2 linked regions of the Homo sapiens genome follow. The protein of the gene in region 2 purifies or fractionates together with the protein of the main gene of each other region. This does not show direct contact. Each region holds a gene or a part of one and is shown on either strand. Other genes may lie near its edges.

Region 1 (9,858 bases), on a different chromosome or scaffold from region 2:
CATCCTTTCACTTTCAATCTATTTGTCTCTTTGGAGCTAAAGTGAGACTCTGGTAGACAGCATATTGTTGGATTATGTTATTAAAATCAATTCTGACAATCTTTGCCTTTTGATTGGAGAGTTTAACCCATTAACATTTAAAGTTGACTGCGAGTGGTGGTTCATGCCTGCAATCCCAACACTTTGGGAAGTTGAGGCAGGTGGATCACCTGAGGTCATGGGTTTGAGCCCAGCCTGGCCAACATGGTGAAACCCCATCTCTACTAAAAATACAAAAATTACTAACTCTGCATCTTCTCTAAGACATTATGATTACTTTCTAAATTTCCCAGTATATGCAATTGCTTTTGAATATCCTAGTCTTAAATGTCTGGCTACCAACAGGAAGTAAAAGAGAAAAATGAAGAGGGAGGGAAGGGTGCAAGCACATTAATCCTAGACAGCACTTCAGCCAGAGGGGCTTGCTACAATGGGAGGAGGTATAAGAATAATGGTCTCTGCCTCTTTTTATGCCTGTGATCAGAAGTAGCAATCAGAGCACAGATCCTAAGTATTTGAAAGACAGGGTCCTTTTGCCCCTCCTGGCTCCTGGAAGCTGCATTCCAGCTGTTCTAGGAACACGTGCACAGCTGCCTGCCATGGGGCTGGGAGGTGGGGGATGGGTAGTTGTTACTGTGCTAAGAGTTGAAATTGAACAAAATTAACCACAATTTATCATCTAAGCCTTCCCTGGGAAGTCGCAGAACTCCAATAGACTCCAGAGCTCCAAAATAGTTACATCAGACAAATTCTGCCACTGTAATTGTCTGGGTGGGGAGACAGATTCCTGATGCTTCCTACTCTGGCATCTTCCCAGAATCCTCTGGGTATTTACCTTTTAAAAAATTATTTTACTCTTTTTTTTTGTGTGTGTGGGGGGTGTCTAAGGTGGGGAGCATACTATATAGTGCTTAATCTGCCATACTTTTTTCTCTTTTTTCCTTCCTTTTCCTCGCTTTGCCCTAGTATTTTATGTAGATTGTGTTGGTTGACTTCTCAATTTTGCCCACAGGTTAAAATATATCTAAATAGGGTTATGATAGAACCAGAGGAAGAATGCTCATCACACAGAGATCCTTGATATGGAACAAGTTGTAGCAACTGATGAGACTTTGCTATGTTTATCTTTGTAAGAGTAAATTGCTCTGTGCAAGGGATAGGTGGCATTACGTAGCGTGAAGTTTTTTTTGAAAATACAGGTTTGGGAAGATCTATATTGTTGTTGGGTTAAGTCTGAAGATTCTGAGAATATTTGGAAGAGAGAGATTATAATGATGGGCCCTGAGATTTAAGTGGACTTGGAGAAAGAGGGATCAGATGGGCAATAAGAAGGTTGGGGTTAATGGACTAGAAGTATCAATAAGGTCACAGAATTACACACAGAATGTACTCCAGTTCATATAAGTGAACTGGAAGATGAAAGATAATTGGCTAGAGAGGGATAGGGGCTTCGGAGGAAGTTTAATTACTTGTGATGAAATTTAGACTGTGACCATAACATAGGTGATTTAGGTGGGCAGGGGCAGAAAAAAGACCACTAAATGTGAGGAGAGCAGGGCTTTAGGTCATTCATGGAAGGTTGAAGCCACCAAGAATGATGGCATGTGCTGGGGAAGAGAGAAAGTGACACAGGTACTAAAATCTTCCCTGTGACACAGTGATTGGGAGATCAGTAGGCAGGACAATTAGAGAAAGGCTGGTATAGTCGAACTGATGAATTCAAAAGAGCTGAGAGGAAGGATGAGAACTAATTGAGGAGGAGCAGTGGAGGCTCACTTCTGGGTCTAACAATGAAAGCAGCCTCTGCCTAAGAGGGCTACAGGTAAGCAGTCTTAGGGGACAGCCAGAGTAAGCTGTGTCTTTAGGGGACAGTTAAGATGAAGAAGTGAAGCAAATATTCCAAATACAAGGTGCATATAGAAAAGAATCTACCGATTTTAGAAAGGAAGTGCTGGAGGACACAGTGGAAAGGCTGGAGAGGGAAGCAGTATGTGATGATGTGGTGGTAGATGACCACTGAGGTTAGGGTCAGACTTCTTGGGATTACTATAACGAATCTGTGAGGGATGGTATTAGACTTGAAGACTCTTAAGAGGATGGTGGGCTAATGGTTTCAGGATTGTGGTTGAGGCTATATTCCTTATCTCTGCAACTGATCATGACTCTGGAGGGTCACACTGGTGACTGCCCTCCCTGACCATTCCATATTCCCCTTGTCCTGTGTCACTGCCTTAGACCACTATGGTTTGTTGTCCAGTGGATGACCCAAATCTTCCTCCTTTAAGAATATGAGTCCTTATTACTCCTAGTATCTAATATCTAAGTCAATTAGGACCACAACACTAGAAAAAATTGTAGAAATGCATAAAAGACGAAAATTAATCTGAGAAAATCACTCAGAATGAAGCCTCTTTTTCAAATATACCTACTATTTTTTCTTACTGCCCTTTCTTGCTTTATGTTTTTTAGTCTTCTCTCCATGTCTGAACATTTTAAGATTTTTTTTTTTTTTTTTGAGGCGGAGTCTCGTTCTGTCACCCAGGCTGGAGTGCAGTGGTGTGATCTCAGCTCACTGCAACCTCTGCCTCCTGGTTCAAGCAATTCTCCTGCCTCAGTCTCCCCAGTAGGTGGGATTATAGGCACATGCCACCACACCCAGCTAATTTTTGTATTTTTAGTAGAGATAAGGTTTCACCATGTTGGCCAGGCTGACTTGAACTCCTGACCTCAGGTGATCTGCCTGCCTTGGCCTCCCAAAGTGCTGGGATTACAGGCATGAGCCACTGTACATGGCTGGGATTTCCCATTCTTGGTTTCAAGTCTAGTTGTGTATTAAACTTTCTTGTCTTATTACATATATTAAATATTTCTGTTTGAGGTGGAAGAGAGTTTGCCTGAAATTACTCTCTGTTGTATATTGGTCAGAAGTCATCCCAAATCATTCTACACAATGCAAACAAAGGGTCTTTTAAAACACAAATCTGGTCATTTCATTCCCTTAGCATGGCATTCAGGGCACTTTGAAATCAGGAAACTTGCCTCTCTAGCTTCATTTTCCACCAATTTCCTCTCTTCTCCACACTCATACACAGCTACTATACTCCAGCCACAGACAGTAACCCTTCTCTTTCCTTTCTCTCATAATTGTATTTAGGGTGTGTGTTAATAATAAATTTACATTTTCCCTAATTTTTGCATACTGTCAAGATGGGATTGCAAAAGTAGTAATGACTATTTCCTGAGAGGCTAGACCCAGAAAACAGTAGCTCCATGTAGCATCGCCTCTGGACATAGTAGTGCAGTATGACCTTAACATTATTTAATTAAAAGTGCTGTCAATTAGATTTGTATTAAATTATTTATTAGGTTTACATTAAGTTATATATTAAGAAATGTATATTTTAGTATTAAATCATCCTTTCTAAAACTTGATGTTTTTTCACTTGTCAGGTCTTATTTTTATGCCCTTCAATATGGTTTTCTTGTTAAATTTATTAAGTATAATTTTGAACAGGTAATACATTAATATGGTTCAAAGCTTACTAAAAAGTATTTAAAATAACATAGCAGTGTTCCCCTTCCATTGCTGTCCCTGAATTGCCCAGTTCTGCTCCCTTCCAGAAATAGGTTATGTGTAGAAGAGCAAATATATATATACCTATTTGTTGCAATTGTAAATGGAATGTTTTTCTTTTGATACTGTTTCTAGTTGATTATTGCTAGAATACAGAAAAAACAATTGATTTTTGTACAGTTATCTTTTATTCAGACACTTATCCATGCTAATAGGCTTCTACTATAGCCTTTTTTTTTTTTTTGGAGATAGGCTGGAGTGCAGTGGCACGATCTCATCTCACAGCAACCTCCACCTCCTGAGCTCCAGTTATATTCCCACCTCAGCCTCCCAAGTAGCTGAGACCACAGGTGGATGCCACCACAACCAGCTAATTTTTTGCAGAGATGGGGTTTCACCATGTTGCTCAGGCTGGTCTTGAACTCCTGGGCTCAAGCAGTCCACCTGCCTTGACCCCTCAGTGTTCTGTTGAGATTACAGGTGTGAGATACTGCACCTGTTTTTTTTTTTTTTTTTTTTTTTAAGAGATAGGGTGTCACTCTGCCACCCAGCCTGGAGTGCAGTGGCATGATCATAGCTCACTGTAACCTCATACTCCTAGACTCAAGGAATCTTCCACCTCAGCCTCGAGTAGCTGGGTATACAGGCATGCACTACCATGCCTGGCCTGAAATAACTTTATACTTAAAAGTTGCAAAAACAATACAAAGAATTCATGTACATCATTCCCTCAGATTTCCCAAATGTTAACATCTTTTTTTTGTTTGTTTTTGAGACAGTCTCACTCTGTCATCCAGGCTGGAGTGCAGTGGTGTGATGTAGGCTCACTACAACCTCTGCCTCCAGGTTCAAGGGATTCCTGTGCCTCAGCCTCCCAAATAGCTGGAATTACCGGCATGTGCCACTATGTCCGGCTAATTTTTGTACTTTAATAAAGAGGGGTTTCACCATGTTGTCCAGGCTGGTCTCGAACTCCAGACCTAGGTGATCCACCTGCCTGGGCCTCCCAAAGTGTTGGAATTACAGGTGTGAGCCACCATGCCTTGCCAACACCTTACTTTTTGCTTTATCATTCCGTGTGTGTGTGTGTGTGTGTGTGTGTGTGTGTAGTTATCTGAAATACTGGCAAACCAAATTAGAGGTTTACCTTTAACCTCTAAATACTTACATTTTCTGAAAACAAGGACGTTCTCTTCTGTAATCATAGTATAATTATCAAAATGAGAAAATTTAACAACACTAGCACTCTCTAGACATTTAAATAACATTTAAGTTCTTGATGTAATAAATTAATAAATTTCCTGACACTGAGCCTTGCATTGCTAAAATAAACCTTATGTAATCAGAGTGTGCAATTCAACTTGATTTTATTTGGGATTTTTGCATCTATGGCCATAGGTGAGATTAGGCTATAGCATTCTTTCTGGCACTTTATCAGGTTTGAGTACAATAATAGTTAAAACTCATCTATTTTGGGGGTTGAGTGATGGCTATAGGAGTGTGTTTACTTTGTAATCATTCACTGAGCTGCATACTTGTGATTTGTACAATTTCCCATATATTTTTCAATTAAAAAGTTTAATTAAAAACAATTTTTTATTTTTGGGACATGGTCTCGCTCTGTCACCCAGGCTGGAGTGCAGCAGCACAGTCTTGGCTCACTGCAACCTCTGCCTCCTGGGCTTAAACCATCTTCCCCACCTCAGCCTCCCAAGTAGCTGTTGACTACAGGCAAGCACCATCATGCCTGGCTAATTTTGGTATTTTTAGTAGAGGTGGGGTCTTGCCATGTTGCCCAGGCTGGTCTCAGACTCCGGGGCTCAAGTGATCTGCCTGCCTTGGCCTTCCAAAGTGCTAGGATTACAGGTGTGGGCCACCACCATGCCTGGCCATCAATCTTTTACAAGGATAAAATTTTATTTATTTTTCACCATCTTATGGTGCTCAAAAAGGATAAAATTTTAACCACCTTTCCAGTTTCTTCTTGGGTAACCAACTGGCCTATTCAAACTATTTCTAGGATCAGTGTTTGCTGGGAAATTATCCATTTCCTCTGATTTCAAATTTGTTGCCATAGAGTTCTATTCTTCTTCTCAATTCCTCAATATATATGGTTATGTCTAATTTCTCATGCCTAATTTTGTTAATTTTTTTGGCTCCTTTCCCCTTTTATCAGGCTCAGGAGGTTTTATCTATTTTATTGGTGCTTTCAAAGAATTTTTTAATTTATTCTTTTTCTTTTTCCTACCTTGTTAAGTTTAGCTTTTATCTTTATTGGTCCATTTTCTATTTTTTATGGTTTAAGTGTGTTTCTTTCCTAAATTTCTTTCTTGTTTTTCTTCTTTCACTATATTGAGGAATTTCCCTAAATTTTAAAATCACTACACACCTTTGAGTTTTTCTTTTTGAACAATAAACATGTTACACTTTCATTTCCAAGTCTGGTCTCATGTATTCTAGGATCCTCAATAAGGAATTTGGGGCCGGGTACAGTCGTTGACGCTTGTAATCTCAGCACTCTGGGAGGCCAAGGTGGGTGGATCACTTGAGACCAGGAGTTTGAGACTAGCCTGGCAAACATGGTGAAACCCCGTCTTTACTAAAAATACAAAAAAAATTAGCTGGGTATGGTGGCATATGCCTGTAGTCCCAGCTACTGAGGAGGCTGAGGCATGAGACCTGCTTGAACTGGAGGTGGAGGTTGCAGTGAGCCAAGATTGCACCACCGCACTCCAGCCTGGGCGACAGAGCAAGACTCTGTCTCAAAAAACAAAACAAAACAAAAGAAATCTGGGTCTCACCTTGCTGCATTGTCTCAGAGCTCAAATCCTGGCCACAGCAACATGGGACAAATAAAAATATGCTGAGCAAACAAACAATACTTTTCTGTTCCAGAGCCCACTGAGAAGATCTGCACTTGCTGCAGGTCCCATCCACTCACCCAAGTATAATAATAAAGGAACATCTGTCATATGCCTGCACTGTGCCAGGTTCTGTGAATGGCTGAACAGCTTGGCATCTGCCCTCTTAGAACTTACATTCTAGTGATGAAGACACAGAACAAGTAGGACAAGTGAGCTGAGCCTGGGATGCTATGGAAGTAAAAGATATGGGTCCAACACCACCTAGGAGTTCTGGCAGAGAATCTCTGGAAGAAGTAATTCTTTTTTTGTTTGTTTTTGTTGGAGACGGAGGCTGGCTCTGTCACCAGGCTGGAGTGCAGTGGCACAATTTCGGCTCACTGCAACCTCCACCTCCCGGGTTCAAGCGATTCTCCTGCCTCAGCCTCCCGAGTAGCTGAGACTACAGGCGCCCGCCACCACGCCTGGCTAATTTTTGTATTTTTAGTAGAGATGGGGTTTCACCATGTTGGTCAGGATGGTCTCAATCTCTTGATCTCGTGATCTGCCCCTACATGGCCTCCAGAGTGTTGGGATTACAGGCATGAGCCACCACGCCCGGCCAGAAGTGATTCTTAATTAGGTTCCTTAGAATCTAAGGTTCTACCCCTGTCTCCTTATCCTATTCTCAGGAAGGTGGCCATTGGCTTTTCTTGTATAAAAGTTATCTGATTTTAAGTTATATGCCTAGTATTCCTGGCCACAGTTAACTGAACCAACGGACTGACAGCCGGGCATAAGACCTCTATCTAGTAGGAATACTGCACACAGGCTGGTTACTAGCTGACTTAACTAGAGCCTCTATGGGAAGTCTAAACATCAAATAGAAAGGAGCAGAAACAGAGATAGCAGGAGAAAAAGCAGAAAAAGAATAGTAAGGTTATAAAAATGGCAGTCGCAAACCCTATGGTATTGAATTAAAACCGTATCTAAACTCATGATTTTTATTTATTTTTAAAAATATGAAACGGAGTCTTGCTCTGTCACTCAGGCTGCAGTGCAGTGGTACAATCACAGTTCACTACAGCCTCAACCTTCTGAACTCAAGCGATCCTCCTGCCTCAGCCTCCTACGTAGCTAGGATTACAGGAATGCACCACCATGCCTGGCTAATTTTTTATTTTTTAAACGTTTGGAGGATGAGGTCTTGCTATGATGCGCAGGCTGGTCTTGAACTCCTGGGCTCAAGTGATCCTCCCACTTTGGCCTCCCAAAGTCCTGGGATACAGGCACGAGCCACCATACCTGGCTCACGGTTTTTAATAACATACAGATGGATAGAATAATAAATTCAGGTGCTTGTATTTGCATGTTTTAACATATATACATATATGTTTTCTAGCTCTGTCTGCTGAGCAGGCCTACAAGCAATGACACTCCGCCAATGATACTCTAGCCAGGAGTATATATTCTGTCCAGATCTTGGTTTCCAGTGGCATCAAGAAACAACTTGGTTTCTAAGTTCCTTTTTTCTGGAATAAAAGGAACTGGGAGCTTCTTAGAGAATGACTGATGCCAGGGCTGAGATAGGGAAAATGTGAGGAAGCCTGAAACATCTTGTGGTGCCAGAAAATGCTTAAAAAGTGACAGGGGCAATGTCGAAACAACACAGTGCCAACTTCAATGAGTTCTCACTGGCCAAATCTGAGCCAATTTGAGCAACCAAATAAACTGTTAGCATTAGATTGTAGCCTGTAGAATAAAACAGATATCCACTCATTCATACTGATATAAATTATCAAATAAATAAATGGGGAAAAGGGACAGCTCTTCCTTATAGTAGAATACCAATTAATAAATACAGGTAAAATAATGAAACAAAGTCACCATTAGGCAAGCATAACATTAATACCTGTTATAAGCAAGAATCATTGATGATGGAAATGAAAATCAGTAGGCAAAATTTTAAGAATAAGACATTCACATAGCTTCAAAGTGGAAGATTCTTGTTAATTTCAAAGGGAAAATTCCTAATTTTACAGTGGAGAAACCTGGCACACACCACCTTAGCCATGTGATCAAAGTTACCACCACCTAGTCTAGGTGTGGTGGCTCATGCCTGTAATCTCAGCACTTTGGGAGGCCGAGGTGGGTGGATCACCTGAGGTCAGGAGTTCAAGACCAGCCTGGCCAACATGGCGAAAACCTGTCTCTACTAAAAATACAAAAATTAGCTGGGTGTGGTGGTGGGCACCTGCAATCCCAGCTACTCAGGAGGCTGAGGCAGGAGAATCACTTTGAACCCAGGAGGCAGAGGTTGCAGTGAGCCGAGATTGCGCCACTGCACTCCATCCTGGGTGACAGAGCGGGACTCCGTCTCAAAAAAAAAAAAAAAACCAAAACAAAAAGTTACCACCACCCTCCGCTAGGAGGCACTAAGAATAGCACAGTATCACTTCTGTGGTTGTCTTGGCAAAAATGCAGATCCTCAATCATATCATGTAAAAACATTAAACAAACTAAAACTGGGGAATATTCTATAAAATAACTGGCCTGGACTCTTCCAAAGTGTCAAGGTCATGAAAGATAAAGACCAAGAAACTGTCACAGGCTGACAGAGATGAAGGAAACACCACAACAAAATGCAATATGGGACCCTGGACCAGACAAAGGACATCATCGGGAAAACTGGCAAAATTTGAATGTCCGTAGATTAGTTAGTAGTAGTTTATCAATGTTAACTTCCTGGTTTTCTTTTTTTGAGACGGAGTCTCACTCTGTCGCCCAGGCTGGAGTGCAGTGGCGTGATTTCAGCTCACTGCAACCTCCGCCTCCTGGGCTCAAGTGATTCTCCTGCCTCAGCCTCCCAAGTAGCTGGGATTACAGGTGGGCACCAGCGGGCCTGGCTAATTTTTGTATTTTTAGTACAGACAGGGTTTCACCATGTTGGCCAGGCTGGTCTCGAACTCCTGACCTCAGGTAATCTGCCTGCCTCAGCCTCCCAAAGTGCTGGAATTACAGGCATGAGCCACCACACCCGGCAATTTCCTGGTTTTGATAAACTACAGTATGGCTTTGTAGGATGTAATCATTGGGAGATGCTAGATGAAAGATACATGGGAATTTTCTACTATTTCTGCAACTTTCTCTAAGTCTAAAATTATTTCAAAACAAAAAGTAAAAAACAATGAAAAGCAGGCCGGGTCCAGTGGCTCATGCCTGTAATCCCAGCACTTTGGGAGGCCGAGGCAGGCAGATCACAAGGTCAGGAGATTGAGACCATCCTGGCTAACATGGTGAAACCCTGTCTCTACTAAAAATACAAAAAGGTAGCCGGGCGTGGTGGTGGGCACCTGTAGTCCCAGCTACTCGGGAGGCTGAGGCAGGAGAATGGCGTGAACCTGG
Region 2 (11,286 bases):
TTCACTGCAATCTCTACCTCCTGGGTACAAGCAAGTGAATCTATATTTTTAAAACTTGAACCAGGCGGGGCATGGTAGCTCACGCCTATAATCCCAGCACTTTGGGAGGCTGAGGCAGGTGGATCACGAGGTGAGGAGTTCGAGATCAGCTTGACCAACATGGTGAAACCCCATCTCTACTAAAAATACAGAAATTAGCGGTCAGGCACAGTGGCTCACGTCTGTAATCCTGGCACTTTAGGAGGCCAAGGCAGGCGGATCATGAGGTCAGGAGATCGAGACCATCCTGGCCAACATGGTGAAACCCTGTCTCCCTAAGAAAAAAAAAAAAAAAAACAACAAAAAATAGTTGGACGTGGTGGCGTGCATCTGTAACCCCCGCTACTCAGGAGGCTGAGGCAGGAGAATTGCTTGAACCTGGGAGGTGGAGGTTGCAGTGAGCTGAGATCATGCCACTGCACTCCAGTCTGGGTGACAGAGCAAGACTCCATCTCAAAAACAAAAACAAAAACAAAACTTGAACCATGATCAGCAATAAGAAGACATTTACGTTATAACCAGTGCAGACCAAGGTATATGTTTCACGAAACAAGACTTTCCCTTGCTCTACAGGTGCATGCATATTTTCTGTCCTATTCTTCTTTTTAAATGCTGGTTGCAACCCACTAAATTATTTCATGTGACTTGCACGACATCCGGCTGTGTAACCCAAAGTCAAGTGACCTCCCCTTTGTTAGCCTCAATGTCCTCATGTACGGAATAGAACACTCATTGATTCAGTGCAGCATGTGTGTATATGGGACACTGCACATTACAGGTTCTCAGTAAATGTTATTATGGCCAGGAGCAGTGGCTCATGCCTAGAACCCCAGCACTTCGGGAGGCCGAGGCAGGAGGATCGCTTGAGACCAACTTGAGCAACATAGGGAGACCCTATCTCTACAAAAAAATATTTTTTAAATTACCCAGGCCAGGCACAGTGGCTTCCCGGGCACCGTGGCTCACATCTGTAAATCCCAACACTTTGGGAGGCCGAAGTGGGTGGATCACTTGAGGTCAGGAGTTCAAGACCAGCCTGGCCAACATGGTGAAATTCTGTCTCTACTAAAAGTACAAAAATTAGCCAGGCGGCCAGGTGTGGTGGCTCACGCCTGTAATCCCAGCACTTGGGAAGGCTGAGGCAGGCGGATCACAAAGCGAGGACATAGCAGAGTCATCCCTTGAACCCTGGGCAGCCTGGTGCCAAAGCTCTACCACTGCCTGACAAACATGGTGAAACCCCGTCTCTACTAAAAATACAAAAATTAGCCGGGTGTGGTGGATGCATGCCTGTAATCCCAGCTACTTGGGAGTGTGAGGCAGGAGAATCGGCTTGAACCCGGGAGGTGGAGGTTGCAGTGAGCCAAGATGGCGCCACTGCACTCCAGCCTGGGTGACAGAGGGATACTCCGTCTCAAAAAAAAAAAAAAAAAAATAGCCAGGCATAGTGGCAGGCACCTGTAATCCCAGCTACTCAGGAGGCTGTGGCAGGAGAATTGCTTGAATGTAGGAGGCAGAGGTTGCAATGAGCCAAGACGGTGCCACTGCACTCCAGCCTGGGCAACAGAGCGAGACTCTGTCTCAAAGGAAAAAAAAAAAAAAATTACCCGGGCGGATGGTGCACAACTGTGGTCCCAGCTACTCAGGAGGCTGAGGCGAGAGAATTGCTTGAGCCCAGAAGTTTGAGGCTGCAGTGATCGCGCCACTGCACTCCAGCCTGGGTGACAAAGTGAGACTCTGTCTCAAAAAAAAAAAAAAAAATTATCATTTATGTTCCTCTTGATTTCTCTTGGCCTTGCAGGCCCTTGCCTTTGTCTCTCTTTTTTTGTCTCTCTCTCTTTCCTGTCTCTGATTCATCCTCTCCCTTGCTTCAATCTGTAAATGTTGCCCTTTCTAATTGAGGTCACACCAAGATCCCCCAAAGTCACACCTACCCCCAAAGTTGGCCAAGCGGCTGATGCGGGAGGCAGGCACCTTGCGTTCTCGAGAGCGGTCACTCAGCTGGGAAATGGGGACAAGGTCTGAGGGTGGGAAAGTGGGCATCGTGGCCAGAGAGTGCAGCCACTCTGCCACCACACCCTTCCCCAAGCTCAGGGGGCCAGCAGTATTCGTGGGGTGTTGCTGGGTGGGTGGGGGTAATGATACCTGGGGCCGGGGTGTCTTCCTGGGACGGGCCTCCCGTGCCCTGCGAATGTCCTCCTCACCCAGGCCTCTCCCAGGCCCATCCTGGTAAAACTTTTGGGCCCAAGAACCTCCACATGGTCCCTGCAAGAGATATACTTTGATAAGGAGGGGAGGACATGGGATCACCTGGCCCTTCTGGACCCCTCCTGTCCTTTTACCCTCTGAAGTCTCCCTCAGCCTCTTCCCCTTGGGGACCTGCTCCCTAGCCTCTTACCCAGCGGTGGGGCCCAGGCCCCAGGGCCCCACAAGGCCAACCAACAGTCTGGCCCAGCTGTCCACCGGTCCCCCGAAGTAGGCCCCCCACCTTCAGCCACATTGCCTGGAGGAGAAGAGGAGGGATTATTCAGGTGGGAGTTGCCTGGCTTCTTGGCCAGGCCCCCATGTTCCTCTGTGTCCACCCTCTCTCATTCCCACCCACTAAATACTTCCTCCACTATTAATAGATTCCCACAGTTTCTCCTGGTTCTCCCCTGGTTGCTAGGAACCCTTAGCTCTTCCTGCAGGCCTCCCAAAACCCACTTTCCCCCCTCTCCCAACCCTCGCCGTTGCTAGGGTCCGCCCCCGTTACTAGACACCCACAGTTCCTCAGGGGCTACCTCTCCACTTCTCTGAAACCCCCCTCGTTGCTATGCACCGCCTTCCCCTCTGTTGGCCCTGTAGGCACCCGCAATTCCTCCGGTGTCCCCCCGCCCGATCCCCACCCCGTTACTGAGCACCTCCCCCCGTTGCTAAGCACCCACTGCTCTCAGCCTCCGAGTCCGCAACCTGCTGGGGCCCTCCTGTGCTTCCGGGAGCCTCTGTATGCCCGCCCCCTTCGGCCAGCCAACCAATGGCGCGGCAGCAACTCGCTGACTGGCACGGAGTTTCTCCATCTGTGCGCGGGGGAAGGGGCCAGAGAGAGGCCCTAGCGATGGAGCCTGGAATTAAGGTGGGCATCGGGGGCCCATCTGGGGGGATTGCTGAGGCATCGCGGGAGCGCAAGCGTGCCCTGTCTGCCCTTCCACTCACCTCAAAGTGCCTTGTACGCGACAGACCCTTCTGTTCCCTACACTTTCTTGCAAAGTCTCCCTTACAAACCTGACGCCTCTCTTCTGCACGAATATCTTGCCAACCCCCCTTCTTATTTTTACCCCTGGCAGGCTCAACACAATTCCTTTGAATACACATTCTTCCCAGCAAACATTTCCCTTGCACATGGAGCCCCTCCACTTTGCACAAACACCCACATTCTGGCACCCAACCTCCTTCCTTGTGCATATAAATCCCTTGCCTTGCTTGCCAACTGTTTCCCGCTCACGCCTTCAACTCTCTCGTGTACATACCCTCCCCCCCACTTGCACACTGAGTCTCTGTTCCCTCACACACCCTGTTCTCTCCGCTCCCCGCCCACCTGCGGAATGGTGCGACTGGGAGCCCTCTGCTTCCTGTAGGCCTGACATTTCCCAGAACACACTCAGCCAAGATTCCCAGTGCTGAGTCAGGAACCTTGGCATCCCAGAAAACCACCTCCCATCCTATCTTTCTTTCTCTGTGTGTGTGTGTGTGTGTGTGTGTGCGCGCGCGCGTTGGAAAGCCTGCTCTCCCCACAACAGGCTGACTCACCCACTTCTCACAGTCTGGAATAGAGGCATCTGGTTGGGGCATCTTTCCCACCACTGGGAGAGGGAGGGATGCCGATGCTTCCCCCACAGAACCCCGCTGCCCCAACCCCTCTTGTCGGGAATCAGGCCTCTTTGTCTCTATTCCCGTACTGTGTGACCTCAGAAAAGCCCTCATCCCTCTCTGGACTTCTCCTTCCCAACCTGTATGAGGTACTAGGTGGGCTCCTGCCTTCGATTTCTCTCATTGGTCTGTGAAAAGGTGACTCATTTTAGAGCCTTGGACCTGTGCCCAATGTCTCCCCCAGTTGACTCAATTTCAAGACAAACCACCTCCTCTCCCCCTTCAGAGGTGAACGGCTGACTCAGGAGCTGGGTGGCAGCTCAGCCTTGGGGGCAAAATATATCAAAATCACCTAGGACAATAAATAATCCTACTGGGCTACAACTGACAGTGCCAGGCCCGGGGCCACATGCTTCACATACATGAGATCATGTCAGATAGCCCCGTAGCTGCAAGCAAAGGGTAGAGGCCGGCAGATCTCTGAGCCTCTGTTCTCACGTGTAAAATGGAGCCCTGGCATCCCTATTGTTCAGCCTTGGAGAATGAACTGAAATCGTGTCAGGGTCTGATACAGAACAAGTACTCTATACATGACAGAGATTTCTTACGGAAAATCCAATGGAGCGTAAGTCATTTGCTCAGGGTAGCGGAGCTGGGAACTGGCAGAGGAAGGTCTCGAACCCACACCCGTGGGAACTCCAAGTCTTTGAAAGTCCGTCCCGCCCCTGCGTGAAGAATGGGCGCGCGGCTGGACTCGTCACCGGGGGTTTTAGGGAAGGTTGAACTTGTCATTCAACCGTGTAGGGAGGGTGGTTTAGTCACAGGGGTGGAGGGAGGGGGCCCACTGGCGCGCCACCAGGACCCCGGTGCCCTAGATGCATACCTGGCCGCGCTTCGGATGCTCAGAGGCAAACCCCCTCCCCTTGGGAGGCGGAGTCGGACAAGGCTCCGTCTCGTTCCGTTCCGTCACGTCCGGTGGGGCGGGGCTTCGGGGCTTTCCCCTTTGAGGGGAGTATCGGTTAACCCTTGCGCGGCGGGGCGGGCTGGAGCTCCGCGGGCCGGAACCCGGGAGTCGGGGCTCCCCAGCCACACCCCTCGCGGGATTTAAAGGGATAGGAGGGGCCGGGTCGGCCGAAGCCCGAACCGAAGGAGCGGGCATGAGGCGCTGCCCGTGCCGTGGGAGCCTGAACGAGGCGGAGGCCGGGGCGCTGCCCGCGGCGGCCCGCATGGGACTGGAGGCGCCGCGAGGAGGGCGGCGGCGGCAGCCGGGACAGCAGCGACCTGGGCCCGGCGCAGGGGCCCCGGCGGGGCGGCCGGAGGGGGGCGGGCCCTGGGCCCGGACAGAGGGGTCCAGCCTCCACAGCGAGCCTGAGAGGGCCGGCCTCGGGCCTGCGCCGGGGACAGAGAGTCCGCAGGCAGAATTCTGGACAGACGGACAGACTGAGCCCGCGGCAGCTGGCCTTGGAGTAGAGACCGAGAGGCCCAAGCAAAAGACGGAGCCAGACAGGTCCAGCCTCCGGACGCATCTAGAATGGAGCTGGTCAGAGCTGGAGACGACTTGTCTTTGGACGGAGACCGGGACAGATGGCCTTTGGACTGATCCGCACAGGTCCGACCTCCAGTTTCAGCCCGAGGAGGCCAGCCCCTGGACACAGCCAGGGGTTCATGGGCCCTGGACAGAGCTGGAAACGCATGGGTCACAGACTCAGCCAGAGAGGGTCAAGTCCTGGGCTGATAACCTCTGGACCCACCAGAACAGTTCCAGCCTCCAGACTCACCCAGAAGGAGCCTGTCCCTCAAAAGAGCCAAGTGCTGATGGCTCCTGGAAAGAATTGTATACTGATGGCTCCAGGACACAACAGGATATTGAAGGTCCCTGGACAGAGCCATATACTGATGGCTCCCAGAAAAAACAGGATACTGAAGCAGCCAGGAAACAGCCTGGCACTGGTGGTTTCCAAATACAACAGGATACTGATGGCTCCTGGACACAACCTAGCACTGACGGTTCCCAGACAGCACCTGGGACAGACTGCCTCTTGGGAGAGCCTGAGGATGGCCCATTAGAGGAACCAGAGCCTGGAGAATTGCTGACTCACCTGTACTCTCACCTGAAGTGTAGCCCCCTGTGCCCTGTGCCCCGCCTCATCATTACCCCTGAGACCCCTGAGCCTGAGGCCCAGCCAGTGGGACCCCCCTCCCGGGTTGAGGGGGGCAGCGGCGGCTTCTCCTCTGCCTCTTCTTTCGACGAGTCTGAGGATGACGTGGTGGCCGGGGGCGGAGGTGCCAGCGATCCCGAGGACAGGTCTGGGGTGAGTGGGACCCATCCTGCCCTTGAGCCACATCACGCAAAACTCCTTATTCCTCCGCCTTTGCTTAGGAAGTTCTCTACCCATTTACTGTTAGTTGCCCACCAGCAATTTCATCTCCGGGAACCTCTTCCATCCACTGACCTCCTCCCTCTGACAGCCAGGTTACTAATTCACTCCAGGCACCCCTTCTTAATTCTCTCCTTTCCCCTTCCTGCACTGTCTCCACTCCTGGGGGTCTACAATGGAGGGCCACTGACCGACTTTATGGGGCCCAGGAACCCCTGAAATTGTAGGACTAAGGAGCCTGCCGTGCGTGTTCACATACATTGTTGCAGCGACGGTCTGACATCTGTCTAATCCTCTGGAATCTGAAGAACACTGGGATAGGGAGACAGGCAGGGTGCACTTTCTACCCCACATTTCTTAATCTGGGGCCTGTGGCTGTCTTAAAGGGTCACAAACCTTCACCACCCCTTAGCCTATTTGTATGTACATTTTTCTAGGGAGCAAAGCGATTCCCCCAGCTTGCATCAGATTCGCAAAAGGGCTGTGTGACCCCAAACGCCAAAGGATCCTTGGCCTAGCCGGGAGCCCACCTGGTCTCCCCTGTGACCCCTACATCCCCAAGGAGCCCCCTGAACACTCTTGTTTACTTTGTCCACCGTCACCCCCAGCTTGGGTGTGGCTCTCCCCTGGTGAATCAGGAGGACCGGCCGGGCAGGTTCAGGGAGGGCGGGACAGAGCAGAGGCCGGTGTGAAACTGGAGAGCCTCACGTGGGGCTGGGAGCCGTGGGGCTGGGAGCCGAGTCCGGAGTCCATCAGCTTGCCAGCTTGCCTGCTGAGGCCTCTTTTTGCTCTGGGGCCCCTGGCTGGAGTCTGCCCTGAGCCCCGCTTCACCCCACATGCCTTCCTTGGGGACGTGTTCACACATGTGGCCCTAGCTGTGAGAGACAGACCTGCCTTGACGTGCCTGTGCCTGTGTGCAGGGGCTGACCCTCCTGGGCCCCATTGCTTTTTTCTCTCTGCCTGCCCTCTCACTTCCTTGGCATCTCAGAACAGCTGAGCTGGAAGTGGGTGAATAATAATAATAATAATAATAATAATAACAACAACAATTAGCACTCACTCATGTTTAGCCCTGTGCTAAGTGCTGTGCTTTTATTAACTCACTCACTCCTCGCAGCAACCCTAATGAGGTAGATACTTTTTTTTTTTTTCTGAGACAGTCTCGCTCTGTTGCCCAGGCTGGAGTGCAGTGGTGCCATCTCGGCTCACTGCAGCCTTCACTTCCTGGGTTCAAGTGATTGTCCTGCCTCAGCCTCCTGAGTAGGTGAGACACCAGGTGCCCGCCACCACACCTGGCTCATTTCTGTATTTTGAGTAGAGACAGGGTTTCATCATGTTGGCCAGGCTGACCTCAAGACTCCTGACCTCAAGTGATCCACCCGCCTCAGCCTCCCGAAGTGCTGGAATTACCAGCATGAGCCACTGCACCCGGCTGAGGTAGATACTATTATTATCCCCTTTTACAGATGAGGAAACTGAGGCACAGAGAATTCAAGTCACTTGTCCAAGGATATCACCTTGCAAGATGCAGATCAAATAATTCTAATCCTTACTGTACACCAGACACTGTTTTAAGTTTTTTCTTCTTTTTTTTTTTTAGTCTTTTTTGTCAATTTTTTTCTGTCATTTTTTATCTTAAAATAGCATCTATCTTAATTAAGGGCTTTGTATGTGTTAACTCTGAGTCCTTATGACAGCACTGAGATTGTCTCCATTCAACAGATGGGGGCCAGGCTCAGTGGCCCAAGCCTGTAATCCCAGCACTTTGGGAGGCCGAGGCAGGGGGATCACCTAAGGTCAGGAGTTCAAGACCAGCCTGGCCAACATGATGAAACCCTGTCTCTACTAAAATACAAAAATTAGCCAGGCGTGTGATGGCGGGCACCTGTAATCCCAGCTACTTGGGAGGCTGAGGCAGGAGAATCGCTTGAATGTGGGAGGCGGAGGTTGCAGTGAGCCGAGATTGCACCACTGCACTCCAGCCTGGGTGACAGAGCAAGACTCGGTCTCAAAAAAAAAAAAACAAAAACAACAGATGGGGAAGCTGAGGCATAGAGAGGTGAGAGATTCTTTGCTTAGGGTTGGCCACGTCAAGTCAGAGCCAGGATTCTAACTCAGTTCTGGCTGAGTTTCAAACCCATCGTTTAAACCCTCCAGTGTGTAGATCTGTTCCTAACTTGTCTCCCTCCCAGGCCTCCCTATCTCCAGTTTTTTTCTCATCCTTCCAGAATCTGCCTCCATGGCCCAGCTTTGTCTGCTCAGGTGCCCTCTCTGAGAGCAGTCAGGGGCTCAGTGCTGCGTTTGGAGCCTCCGGTCTCCAGGCGCCTTCCCAGAATCGACTTCCTTCCCTCCTCCTGACCCCCTCTGCTGTAACTAGGCCTGAGTACACACTGTTCCTTGAACACTCTTCTGTTGTCCTGCCTCCACGCATTGCTCAAGCCGTTCCCACTGCCCAGCATACCCGTGCTTCCTTCTCCCTTAATTTTGAAATCCTCTCTGACCGTAAAGGCTCAGCTTCCTTTCTCCCTTTCCTCCTTCCTTCCTTCTCACCATCCTGTCCTTTTTTTAAAATTGTGTTCTCTTTCTTTTTCTTTTTTTGGTAGGGATGGGGTCTTGCTATCTTGCCCAGGCTGGTCTTGAACTCCTGGGCTCAAGTGATCCTCCTGCCTCAGCCTCCCAAAGTGCTGGGATTACAGGTGTGCTATCCTATTCTTCTAATGAGACAAAAATCACTCCCTAAGCCCCTACCATGTATTTGGTCCTATGTTAGCTTTGCTGGGGAAACAGCAGTGACCAAGACACTCATGGAGCTCCCAGGCCCATGAAAGAGACAGACCAATCAGCCGACAGTCACAGTTCAGAGTGGTCAGGAGGATGTGTGAGCCCAGAAGGAGGTCACTGGCCAGACACAGGGTATCAGAGAGGGCTTCCTGGAGGAAGGGGCATATAAGCTGAGACCATTGTGAAAAAAATCCGAGAAAGCCCAGATAAACCATTGGATCTAACTTTTTTTTTTTTTTTGGAGGGCGTGCAGTGCGGAGTTTCACTCTGTTGCCTAGGCTGAAGTGCAGTGGCGAGATCTCAGTTCACTGCAACCTCAGCCTCCCGGGTTCAAGTGATTCTCCTGCCTCGGCCTCCCAAGTAGCTGGGACTACAAGCGCACGCCACCACGCCCGGCTAATTTTTTTTTTTAGTAGAGAGTGGGTTTCACTATGTTGGCCAGGCTGGTTCTGAGCTCCTGACCTCAGGTGATCCACCCACCTCAGCCTCCCAAAGTGCTGGGATTACAAGCATGAGCCACTGTGCCCGGCCCGGATCTAACATAAAACAGAGAGAGAAGATATTATGTTTATGATTAAGGGGCCAGGTGTGGTGGCTTATGCCTATAATCCCAGCACTTTGGGAGGCTGAGGTGGGAGGATTGCCTGAGCCCAGAAATTTGAGACCACCCTGGGCAACACAGTGAGACCTCATCTCTACTAAAAGGAAAAAAGAACTAGCTAGATGTGGTGGTATATGCCTGTTTTCCAGCTATTCGGGAGGCTAAAGCAGGAGGATTGCTTGAGCCTGGGAGGCAGAGGTTGCAGTGAGCCAAGATCACACCTCTGCACTCCAGCCTGGGCAACAGAGTGAGATCCTGTCTCAAAAAAAAAAAAAATTACTATTAAAAAAATCCCAACTAACATTCTTCAGTCCAAGCATCAAAGAATGTTTCTGGAGCGTCTGTCGTGTGCCAGGCCATGTGCTGGGGACATAATCATAACCATGACAACCCCAGTCTCTGCCATCATGAGCTTGTAGTCCAGCAAGTGTGTAGGGGATAAGCCCCAAGGCACTGGGATCCAACCAGAGCTAGAACCCCAGCGCTGTGTGGGGTGATGTTAGGTAAGTGGCTTCACCTCTCAGACCCTCTGTTTCCTCCTTTGTAACACCGAGACGATAATCTCCCTGGGGTTGTGTTTTTAGAAATTAAGTAGGTTGTGGCACACTGAGTCTTTGTCATTGTGTCTGGAATGTTCCAGGTACTTAGTAAACAGGAACCTTTATTAATCATCTCTTCCCCAGGGCCGGCAGCTGGATTGGGGAGGGACTAGCCCTTCCCGAACCCTGACTCCCTCTTAACCTTCCCACTGTCAAAGAGATGTCTGTGAGGTAGCTGGGCTCTGAGGGGGCGGGAGAGATGAACACGTCCCTGATCCTGGGGTAGGAGAGGGATGAGCCATACAGTTTCCTTCTCTGGAGGTGACCCACTCTTCCAGTACTTGCTAAGGGACTTGACATGCTTGTGGGGTGCAGAATGTATTCCTGTGTGTGTATGTGTTCATGAATCAGACACTAACCCTGTCTCAAAAAGCTCATAGTTTAGTCGGCATGATACAACGAAAACCCTGTTTTCTATTTGCTTCTCTGGTTTTCTTTCTTTCTTTCTTATTTTTTTGAGTCAGGGTCTCACTGGGTCACCCAGTCTGGAGTGCAGTGGCACAATCACTGCTCACTGCAGCCTCACCCTCCAGGGCTCAAGTGATCCTCCCACCTTAGCCTCCTGAGTAGCTGGGACTACAGGTGCACACCACCACGCCTAGCTGATTCTTAATTTTTTATTTATTTATTTATTTATTTTTTGAGATGGAGTCTCGCTTTCTCGCCCAGGCTGGAGTGCAGTGGCACAATCTCGGCTCACTGCAACCTCTGCCTCTCAGGTTCACACCATTCTCCTGCCTCAGCCTCCCGAGTAGCTGGGACTGCAGGTGCCCGCCACCATGCCCAGCTAATTTTTTGTATTTTTAGTAGAGACGGGGTTTCACTGTGTTAGCCAGGATGGTCTCAATCTCCTGACCTCATGATCCGCCTGCCTCAGCCTCCCAAAGTGCTGGGATTACAGGCATGAGCCACTGCGCCCGGCCTAATTTTTAAACATTTTGTAGAGATGGGGTCTTGCTATATTGCCCAGGCTGGCCTCAATCTCCTGGGCTCAGTGGTCCTCCCACCTTGGTTTCCCAGTGTTGAGATTACAGGCGTAAGC

What was found.
Region 1: the proteins of COQ8B (region 2) and CLPB purify together in Homo sapiens (affinity purification with mass spectrometry; 2 studies listed by BioGRID and IntAct, with this or other methods). This does not show direct contact.

The regions. Positions count from the first base shown.
Region 1 is NC_000011.10:72,282,112-72,291,969, forward strand, and holds the end of CLPB (mitochondrial disaggregase), read right to left. Parts: 3' UTR 3,384-9,858; downstream 1-3,383. UniProt on the Homo sapiens protein: Functions as a regulatory ATPase and participates in secretion/protein trafficking process. Has ATP-dependent protein disaggregase activity and is required to maintain the solubility of key mitochondrial proteins.
Region 2 is NC_000019.10:40,712,094-40,723,379, forward strand, and holds the start of COQ8B (atypical kinase COQ8B, mitochondrial), read right to left. Parts: upstream 4,794-11,286; 5' UTR 4,494-4,793; intron 3,027-4,493; exon of another isoform or gene 2,960-3,026; intron 2,543-2,959; 5' UTR 2,540-2,542; coding exon 2,438-2,539; intron 2,305-2,437; coding exon 2,185-2,304; intron 2,041-2,184; coding exon 1,974-2,040; intron 1-1,973. Other genes in the region: ITPKC (inositol-trisphosphate 3-kinase C), read left to right, coding at 5,043-6,197.